Homo sapiens: one gene and its partner. The protein of the gene in region 2 purifies or fractionates together with the protein of the main gene of each other region. This does not show direct contact. Each region holds a gene or a part of one and is shown on either strand. Other genes may lie near its edges.

Evidence for each region. The genes of interacting proteins can lie anywhere in the genome.
Region 1: the proteins of CSE1L (region 2) and TPP2 fractionate together in Homo sapiens (co-fractionation; 2 studies listed by BioGRID). This does not show direct contact.

The regions. Positions count from the first base shown.
Region 1 is NC_000013.11:102,676,970-102,680,506, reverse strand, and holds the end of TPP2 (tripeptidyl-peptidase 2), read right to left. Parts: intron 2,281-3,537; coding exon 2,191-2,280; 3' UTR 549-2,190; downstream 1-548. UniProt on the Homo sapiens protein: Cytosolic tripeptidyl-peptidase that releases N-terminal tripeptides from polypeptides and is a component of the proteolytic cascade acting downstream of the 26S proteasome in the ubiquitin-proteasome pathway.
Region 2 is NC_000020.11:49,049,292-49,056,355, forward strand, and holds part of CSE1L (exportin-2), read left to right. Parts: intron 1-7,064. UniProt on the Homo sapiens protein: Export receptor for importin-alpha. Mediates importin-alpha re-export from the nucleus to the cytoplasm after import substrates (cargos) have been released into the nucleoplasm.

The DNA.
Region 1 (3,537 bases), on a different chromosome or scaffold from region 2:
CATTTCATTAGAGCTGGGGGTGGAGGGAGAAAGGGTTTGAGATTTGTGGTGCCTAAGAAGAGAAGCAGGTGGGGCTCTTCTGCGGTAAAGAGAAGTTCTCCCAGAAAGCATGCTAACATGAGGAAGGAAAGAAATCCCATGAGATGGCAAAACTCCTCCCAGTAACAATTGAGAACTGCCTCTTATTATTGGAAAGGGGCCACAGAACCAGTATTGAGCACATACCCTGTACTGTCTCTAATGGTTCTTTAAAAAGTTATTTTTACCTAGTTTTTTCAATTGTTTTCAGTGGGTGTGCAAACATTGGCTACTGTGACCAGAAACAGGAAAACTGCTTGACTTTTTGAAGTACCATCCTACTGTTTGTATTATTTTTAATGTAATCACATAGAAACAGTAATGATTTTACTGAGAACATCTTCTAGAGCTTACTTGGGTCCACTTGTCACCACAGAAATGCAGAATGAACCAGACAGGAAACAGGAGCTAACATGGCAGCTTTGTATAACTGCCTCCAGTTACAGGAGTCACAAATGAATAGGCATGGCTCTGTTCCAATAAAACTTTATTTACAAAAACAGGCAGCAGTCCAGTTTGGGTTAAAGGGCCAAACGTTACTGATTCCTGCTGTAGGTAGTACTTACCTGAAATAGCAAAACCTGGGTTGTAAAGCAAGGTCTGTAATTAATTTCCAACAGTTGATCAGCCGTATAACCTTGGGAAGTCATCCTACCTTTACTGAGCTTCTCCATTCTCTTACTGGACTAAACCTATACAAATGGGGACCTGTATGTGTGTGCAGGTGAAAGTCCATGAGTGTGTGAGAGAGAACATGCATGTAGCTTTCATGGATAGACTTTGGACCCTAGCTAGCCCAGAAGGTGTGACCAATATGCTTATACATGTATTTATGTTTCTCATAAACGCTCTAACACTTCATGAGATACAGCAGAAACAGTTGGGAGTGACTAAGGATTACTGGTAGTAATTTTAAGCAGCAGTAAATCTTAAGAGAACAAGATAAAAAAATCATACATACACACAATTTGCCATTAGATAAGGGACTGTAAACTTTTCAATACTACTTTTGTCTGTTTATTTGGTGGAGGAATGACGAGAGATGCACGTGCAGTAGCCAAAGATAAAAATAATAAAAAGTTAGATATGCACAAAAGTTAATCATACAAGAACTGGAAATACATTCAAATAATTGTAAGCCTATAAGAAACACTGTAAAATAGATTATCTTATGTTTAACTTTTTTTGTCTATGTATTTAATGTATTATTTCTGTTATAACCCCAAATTTTATTTATGAAAAATTAAGACCAACTTTAAGAAGCTTCAATATTCACTTTTATTATTTATAAAAAAAAATTAAGGTACCAGAGTGCATATGGTGTACTGTGATCTTGGTTTTGCAAATTTATTCATGTGTTTTACATTATTTCAATTTTAATAAACATATCATATGTGTATCTTTACAATACCTGATAAAGATTCAGCTGTCTGGCACTTACACATGTATTCATAGAGTTCATTCTGATGCTCTGAACCTCAAGAGGATGTGAAAATGACTTGCCTGTAATTACCCCAAGATGAAGATTTATTGAAGCAGTTATGCTCCAGCAACTGCCACTCATTTGTGCTGGTTCTACTTTTTCCCCTTAATTGAATGTAAACATTTGCCAAAAAAAAAAAAAAAAAAAAAAAATTCTGGAAATGAAGTTCTGTTAGTTTTTAGTCCAATAAATAATTTTAGCTACGCTTAATGTAGCTTTTTTAAGGCCTTCATACAATTGAAAAAAATTAAAGTTGAGCACGTTAAAACCCTGTTCATTTATAAAATAAAAAATAGTACTTTATAGGTTTGCAGTTAAAAGTTACCTTCCAAAACCTATCATGCATGTCATAAGCTGCAACCCAACTCGAAGTCCTAGGTGCTGGCAGGCAGGGCACATCCCCGTGCCAGCAATGTGAGGCATTAAGAAAACACCATGATGTCAGAGGTCTAGATTTACATGTATTAAGCCACACGTCAGTGAATTCTCTGATAAATACATGTCATTTTAATAATCAGTACTGGATAGTGGATGAAAACATGCATTAGACTAAAAATGCCACAAATTTGTTTTTATACCCATTCACTATAAAACTTCCTTTTTTAAAATTTAAAGTCTTGTTTCCTATTTTAGAATACGCAATAATCGGGAGGATACATGATGGGGAGCCAGTTTTCAGTAAAAGATGCACAATGGGTCCATCCAAGTAACTTCATCAGCTACAACAAAATACAATAATATATTATTATAAAGGAAGTGACAGATTTTTAAGCTCAGTATTTAGAATAAATTCTGTATTAAATAGTAACAGTAAGGTAGTAGCATATAGAACCTTCCTTCCACCAACCGTCACCCACCCATTGATCCTCCTTCCCACCAACCAACTTTTCTTACTATCAACCAACTTTCCTACCAACCAACCTATTGTTCTCATCATTATCCCTACCAACTGTCCTTTTCCCTCTTTCCTATTAACCTGTGTTCCTCCCTTCTTCCTTCCAACTTACTTGTTCCTTTCCTTCCTACCAACCTAAGTTCCTTTCATTCATTTTTTCTGAGTAACTATCATGTCAAACACTGGGAAAACAGCACTGAACAAATTCACCTCCCACTTTCAGGAAAAGCAAATAATAAGCAAATTAATAAATGAATAAACAAGTAATAAGATATTTATCAGGTGTACAGTAGAAATAATATTTGACACAATATAAACTAACTGGGGAGTTAGATGGTTAAGAAAGGATCTCTATGGAGGTGATACTCCAGTTGAGTTTGAATGACAAGAAATCTGTGCGAAAATCTGGGAAAGACATTCCATCCAGCCAGAGTAGTTAGTGCTAAGGTCCTTTGGTAGGAAAAGGTGTGGCTGTTTGTGCTAAGCAGAGATGCTGGTGTGGCAGAAGCAGAGTTTGTATGGGCAAGTGTGATATGAAATAAGTCTGGAGAGGTAGGCAGGGGCCTTATGGACCACTGGGGAGAGTTTGGATTTTATTCCAAATGTGATGGAGATTCAACAGCAGGTGTCAAAAGGCATCTTTTCCAGCTGCTGTGTGGAGAACAGGCAGCGGGGGGGGCAGAGTGGAGGGCAGACAAGTTAAGAAACACTCCCTGATGTGAACGTCGGCAGGGATCACTGGCTTTACAAACCTAAGTGCTCACGGATCAGATTCCACATGATGAGAACCACATTAGACATATCAACACCTGGCTCCAGAAAGAGTTCTCTTAATCTAGTCAAAGATCTGGAGGAGCTAATTTAAAATGTCTTACAATTTGGACTGACTGGTGAAGGTAAACAAAAAGCTCTAAGAGTAAATATGAATATAGCTTACTCTAATTATCAAACATTTTCAGAGGAACCTACTGATCAGTTTTACATCCAAAGGGTACCTTACATATAAAGTATAATTAACCTGGACTTGCCCTTTAGCTGAATCTGGCACCACCAAACTCCCCTGCCTTCACGTATCCTTTAG
Region 2 (7,064 bases):
TCCTACCTCAGCCTCCCGAGTAGCTAGGACTACAGGCGTGCACCACCACACTCAACTAATTTTTATTTTTTTTTTGTAGAGATGGCACCATGTTGCCCAGGTTGGTCTCAAACTCCTGGACTCAACCAATCTGCTTACCTTGGCCCCCCAAAGAGCTGGGATTACAGGCATGAGCCACCCTACTTGGCCAAAATGAATGTTTTGTTTCTAGTTTGAGTCATTTTTAGATCAGTAACACTTTTTGCATTTATATATTGCTAATATTTCAGAGTGTCAAAGTACCTTTACTTGTGGTTGCATAAGATAATTAGAGCTTGATCTTGTTGATAATTATGAATACCTGTAAAATGTTCTCTAAAAGTCCCTGATTTCTCTTATTTTCTCAAATTAAGGATAAGCTTAGAATTCGGTTTTATAGACTATATCTGCAAGGCGATATAAAAAGGATTTGTTGACAAATAGTTCCTTAAAGAATATTCCCAAAGAATAAACTTTGGAAGGCCAAGGTGGGCGGATCACTTGAGCTCAGGAGTTCCAGACCAGCCTGGGCAACACTGGAACCATGTCTACAGAAACAACACAAAAATTAGCCAGGTGTGGTGGTGTGTGCCTGTAGTCCCAGCTACTTGGGAGGTTGAAGTAGGAGGATGGCTTGAGCCCAGGAGGCAGAGGTTTCAGTGGGCCAGAATTACACCACTGCATTTCTCCAGCCTAGGTAACAGACCCAGACCCTGTCTCAAAAAAGAGTATTAAGATTCTGGGATCTATGTAGTATTTTAACTTTGAGGGATTATAACATGCATATTTATATAACCCCTCACTTTTTTTTAAACTTAAAAATAGTCCTACCCTAGCATCTCAACTTAATCATTTTAGGTTTCATTCTATTATGTGGTTTTATTTATTTATTTTTATTTTATTTTATTTTATTTTATTTTATTTTTGGAGACAGGGTTTCACTCAGTCACCCATACTGGACTGCAGTGGCAAGACCTCAGCTTATTGCAGCCTAGACCTCCCGGGCTCAAGCAATCCTCCTGCCTCAACTTCCCTAGTAGCTAGGACCACAGGAGGGTATCACCAAGCCCAGCTAATTTTTTTTTTTTTTTTTTTTTTTTTTTGAGATGGGAGTTTCACTTTTGTTGCCCAGGCTAGAGCTAGAGTGCAATGGTGCAGTCTTGGCTCATTGAAACCTCTGCCTCCCGGGTTCAAGCAATTCTCCTGTCTCAGCCTCCTGAGTAGCTGGGATTACAGGCGCATGCCACCACGCCCGGCTAATTTTTTTTTTTTTGTATTTTTAGTAGAGACGGGGTTTCATCACATTGGTCAGGCTGGTCTCGAACTCCTGACCTCAGATGATCCGCCTGCTTCGGCCTCCCAAAGTGCTGGGATTACAGACGTAAGCCACCGCGCCCGGCCTGAGCCCAGCTAATTTTTAAAATTTTTTGTAGAGACAGGATCTCACTATTGTTGCCAAGTCTGGTCTTGAACGGTCCTTGGGGTCAAGTGATCGTCCCATCTCCACCTCCCAAAGTGCTGGGATTACAGAAGTGAGCCACCTTGCTCAGCCTGTTGTGGTTTTAGAATCTAGAAGGTTGTGTCCACCTCTTTCTGTTTGACACAGTCAACCAACCAAAATAAAGATGAAGAATAATATTTTTGATGGAAACATCAAAGGTATCTAGCTTTTTAAAATAGTACAACAAATATATAACGGGTGCTCATCACTATTGTAAGGCTCTAGGGAGAGAGCAGTGAACAAAGCACAAAGTCCCTACTATCAGTGGAGTTTACAATCTAGTGAAGAGAGAAGCACAGTAAATGACAAAAGAAATTAATATGCCTGATAAAATGTACTTGGAAAATAGTAGAGTAAGGGCATGGAGAGTAACTGAGGTGAATGCTCTTTTAGATAGGATGGTGCAGCAAGGCATCTCTGAAAAAAAGATGACATTTGAAAAGAGTCCTTCCAGGCCGGGCACGGTGGCTCATGCCTGTAATCCCAGCACTTTGGGAGGCTGAGGCGGCAGATCACCTGAGGTCAAGAGTTTGAGATTAGCCTGGCCAACACGGTGAAACCGCATCTTTACTGTATATAAAACTCAGCCGGGCGTGGTGGCACGCACCTGTAGTCCCAGCTACTTGGGAGGTTGAGGCAGGAGAATTGCTTGAACCTGGGAGGCGGGGACTGCGGTGAGCTGAGATCACGCCACTGCACTCCAGCCTGGGTGACAGAGCAAAGACCCCTGTCTCCAAAAAAAACAAGAGTCCTGAATGAGAATGAAGTGGGCAGTGCAAACCTTGTAGCTTTCCGTGTGCAGAGCTCTGCAGGCAGAAGGAATGGTAAGTACAGAACCCTGAAACAAAAGTAAAATCACTGGCATGTTTGAACAGGTAATACAGGATAAATTTTATCTTTTTTCAGAGACAGAGTCTTACTCTGTTGCCCAGATTGGAATGCAATGGCATGATCATAGCTCACTGCAGCCTTAAAATTCTGAGCTTAACCAGTCCTTCTGCCTCAGCCTCCAGAGCAGCTGAGACTACAAGTGCTCGCCACCATGCCTGGCTAATTTTTATTTATTGTAGAGACAGGGTCTCACTATGTTGCCCACGCTGGTCTTGAAATCCTAGCCTCAAGTGATCCTTCCGCCTCGGCCTTCCAAAGCGCTGGGATTACAGGCATGAGCCATTCTGCCAGGCCAGAACAAATCTAAAAATTCACTTTCTTGAAGTACTTTTGAATAAACAAATTTAATTGTGGCAGTTAAGTTGGTCATTTGTTCATCTGACATTCATGCAACTGAGTTCCCACATTATGTTGGGGCTGCTAATGATTGATCTGAAGGGATAGTCTCCAGTCTTGACTGGAAACTCATGTTTTGCTGGGTGACTGACATGTTGTGACTTATCCTTTAGTTCATACAACAAATGCTTACTAAATATGTACTGTGTGCCAGGTAATGCTGAAGGTCCTGAGCATACAGACGAAAGTCCCTGCCCTCAGGAGCTTGCAGTCTAGTGTGTGTATGAGACGACAAAGAAGTTTATTTCAAATGAGGGTAATTGCTAACACAGTAAAACAAGGATGATGTAGATGGTAATCGTAGAAGGCCTTTTTGAAGAGTTGACAGTGGGCTGAGTGCTGAATGGTGTCCATTATCAAATTAGAGGATGAGCATTATTATGGTCAGGGAGAACTCTTGTGGCCAGTTTGTAGAACAGAAGGCTTTTGTGCCTGGAATGTAGCAAGAGCCAGGAGGAGGTAGGAGATGAGGTCAGTAGATACCAGATTGCTTAGACCCTGCTGTGGTAAGGGATTTGGTGGTGGTGGTGGTGGTGGTGGTTGTTTTGGAGATAGGGTCTCACTCCCATTGCCCAGTCTGTAGTGCAGTGGCCTGATCACAACTCACAGCAGTCTCAATTTGCTGGATCTACAGGTGTGTGCCACCACACCTGGCTAATTTTTTGTATATTTAGTAGAGACAGGGTCTTGCTGTGTTAGCCCAGGCTGGTCTGAAGCCGGCTGAAGCAATCCACCTGCCTTGGCCTCCCAAAATGCTGGGCTAACAGGCGGCAGCCACTGCACCTGGCCAGGAGTTTGGGTGTTTAAGACAAGTAATTATGAGGAATCTAAGGAGTTTTAGTTGAGAAATATACAAATGCTAGAGAAACATAATGAAGAAAGTGAAATGCAGATTTATTAAGAAGTGTATTTTTAAAAATCAAGAAAATAAGCCCTGTGTGGTGGCATATGCCTGTAGTCCCAGCTATTCCAGAGGCTGAGGCAGGAGGATTGTTTGAGCTCAGGAGTTAGAATCCAATCTGGACAATACAGTGAGACCCCCTGTCTCTCTTTTTTTTTTTTTTTTTTTTTTTTAAAGACAAAATAGATCTGTAAATCTGCCCCTGCACCCTCCCCACCCAAGTTTCTAACAATCTGCCTTGCATGAATCCCCAAAGGTAGAATAAATTTGCATATGGCAAAGAAAGGCCAATTTCCTTTAACTCAGATACACTGATGTTAATGATTTAACTTGACCACAGCAAACTAACTTTTTTTTTTTTTTTTTTTTTTTTTTTTGAGACTGCGTTTCTCTCTTGTTGCCCAGGCTGGAGTGCAATGGCGCAATCTCGCCTCATTGCAACCTTTGCCTCCCAGGTTCAAGCAATTCTCCTGCCTCAGCCTCCCAAGTAGCTGGGATTACAGGCATGTGCTACCAGGCATGGCTAATTTTTAGTAGAGACGGGGTTTCACCATGTTGGCCAGGCTGGTCTCAAACTCTTGACCTCAGGTGATCTGCCCCTCTCAGCCTCCCAGAGTGCTGGGATTATAGGTGTGAGCCACCACACCTGGCCCAAACTTTCATGATTTCATAACTGATCCACCATTTCAATACAGAAAAAAGGAATAGGAAAATAAATGGATTAAATCATTGCTTTCCAAAGTGTGTTCTATTGAAAAGGAGTTCTATAGCCAAATAATGGGAGAGACTGGGCAATCCTCCCACCTTAGCCTCCCAAGTAGCTAGGACTACAGGGCCACACCACCACGCCCGGCTAATTTTTTGTATTTTTAGTAGAGATGGGGTTTTGCCATGTTGCCCAGGCAGGTCTTGAACTCCTGGGCTCAAGCGATCGTCTGCCTCAGCCTCCCACCAGTGGAGACTCTGGATTAATTGATGTGAACCAGTAACTTTGTGAGTTTAAAGTGCTTTGTATTGTGAATCTCCAAAGTGGGGCAGGATATAATGTGTAGCATTTTCCAAACTTGTGATATAAAAAACCATAAAGGGTATAGCCTCTCAATAGATTGTATGTGTGGTTTAATGGGACTTGATTTTCACACCTATAGAGTGGAACACCTGGATTAGAGGGAGTGATTAGGTAGGTGGTGGGATCTACTCAGTCAGAACATTAGCTTCCTGTGATAAACACATTTTCTAATTAAGGGGAAGGACTGCAGCATGTAGAATACAGATAATTCTCTTTAGAAGGTTGGGGTTTCTGGCTGTTGGGGAGTGCCCTGCATAAGCACAGCATTAGATAATATTTTCTTATTTTCTGGCTCCCCACCGCTCAGTTGTCCTCTGGCTGCCCTCTTTTCACATCAGCCTTTCTATTGTGTTGTGAGTGCTTTCACTCTTGGTCAGCCGTCTGTCATTTCCACCTAAGAGGCAGCCTTGGGTAATAGAAAGAGGGTAGACCTACGGAGTTGGACTGATTTAAATCTGATCTTTATTTATTAACCATATATAGTTAATATATGTCAACCTGAGTGCCCTTCTTTGTGTGTAAAATCATTGTGTGGAATAAATGATATGAAGCCTATGAAAACATCTAGCATCGTGTGCCTGGTTCATACATGTGACACTTCCCCCATTCTGCAAACCATTACCAGCCCAAAGGTCCTCTACTCCACTTTCATTACATTTTTACCCACTTAAGAAAACCTTCATGACTTCCCCATACATTAAATCATGGCACTCTTCAGCCAAGTATGGAGGAACCTATATGATCTGGTCTTGATCTCCTAGCCCACTATTCTCTCTTCCCATCTCTGTTACTTTGCTCTCACAATTCATTTTGGCAGATGCGCCCTCATCCTACTTTGCCTATTCAGATACACATATTTTTCAAGGTTCAGCTCAAGGCTCAGGCTCTGGGAAACTCTTGGATGGCCACATAACCCCGTGACTCCCTTCTTAATTTTCTAACGTTTAAGGTGCTGTCTTTGTGATTCATTTGGCACTTCAGAGGACAGATGTTTCAGAATTTGGGATTTTTTTTGGATGCATGTACTGTGGATTATACAACATCCCCAGTGGGGCTTGGGGTAGCACCCTGTAATCAAACGTATTGATATTTCTTTAGTGAAACAAATTTGCATACTAAGTGAGATAAATCTATGTTGATAGCCTCAGGCAGTTCAGGCTGGTTTTGCTGCCAAGTGAGTTTGCCACAAACTTGTTAAAAAACAAACTTTTAAGTTTTTTTATTTTTGGATTTCATCACTTTAGTAAAGGGTATATAGGCCTGTACTTGGCATTTCAGTTGTGTCTTGTCTTCTGAACTATTACAGAAGCTCCTTCTAGGACAGGAACTTGATTGCATATTGTCATAGGCATTTTAAAAATAAATGGGTCCCGGTATGGTGGGTCATGCCTGTAATCCCAGTGTTTTGGGATGCCGAGGCAGGAAAATTGCTTGAGGTCAGGAGTTCAAGACCAGCCTGCGCAATATGGTGAAACCCCATCTCTACAAAAAATACAAAAATTAGCCAGGCATGGTTGATTGCGCCTGTAGTCCCAGCTACTCAAGAGGCTGAGGTGGGAGGTTGGGGCTTGAGCCCTGGAGGTTGAGGCTGTGGTGAGCTATGATCATGCCCCTGCAGTCCAACCTGGGCCACAGAGCAAGACTCTGTCTGAAAAAATAATAAAATTTTTTAAATTCCTTACTGTAAATGTATAATAGATATGTGATTGTAAGATTAGAAAAGTATGAAGAGAATAAAACTCTCCTTATATCTATCACCGAGATGTTATCACTGTTCTACATTTTGGAGTGTGTTTTTTGTTTTCTTCTATATGTGAAGTTTTTTTTCATAATTTGAATTATGATATCCTTGAACTTTTTCCACTGACCTTTTTTACATTTTACAAAAATTGTGTGTTTAGTTTTTTTCTTCTTTTTCATAGAAGCCTCTGGTTAATTTGGTGCATGATTTCCCTGAAAGGGCTCCACTTTCCCATCTACATGTGGCTATATATCTAAAAGCTGCCTAATGGAATCTAAGCATAAGTGGAGTTTTCTAAAATCGCTTTTTTTTTTTTTGGAGACAAAGTCTCGCTCTTTCTGAGGCTGGAGTGCAGTGGCACAATCTTGGTTCACTGCAGCTTCTGCCTCCAGGTTCAAGCGATTCTCCTGCCTCAGCCACCCAAGTAACTGGGATTACAGGTGCATGCCACCATGCCCGGCTGATTTTGTATTTTTAGTAGAGACGGGATTCACCATGCTGGCCAGGCTGGTCTCAAACTCCTGACCTCAGGTGATCCACCCCCCTC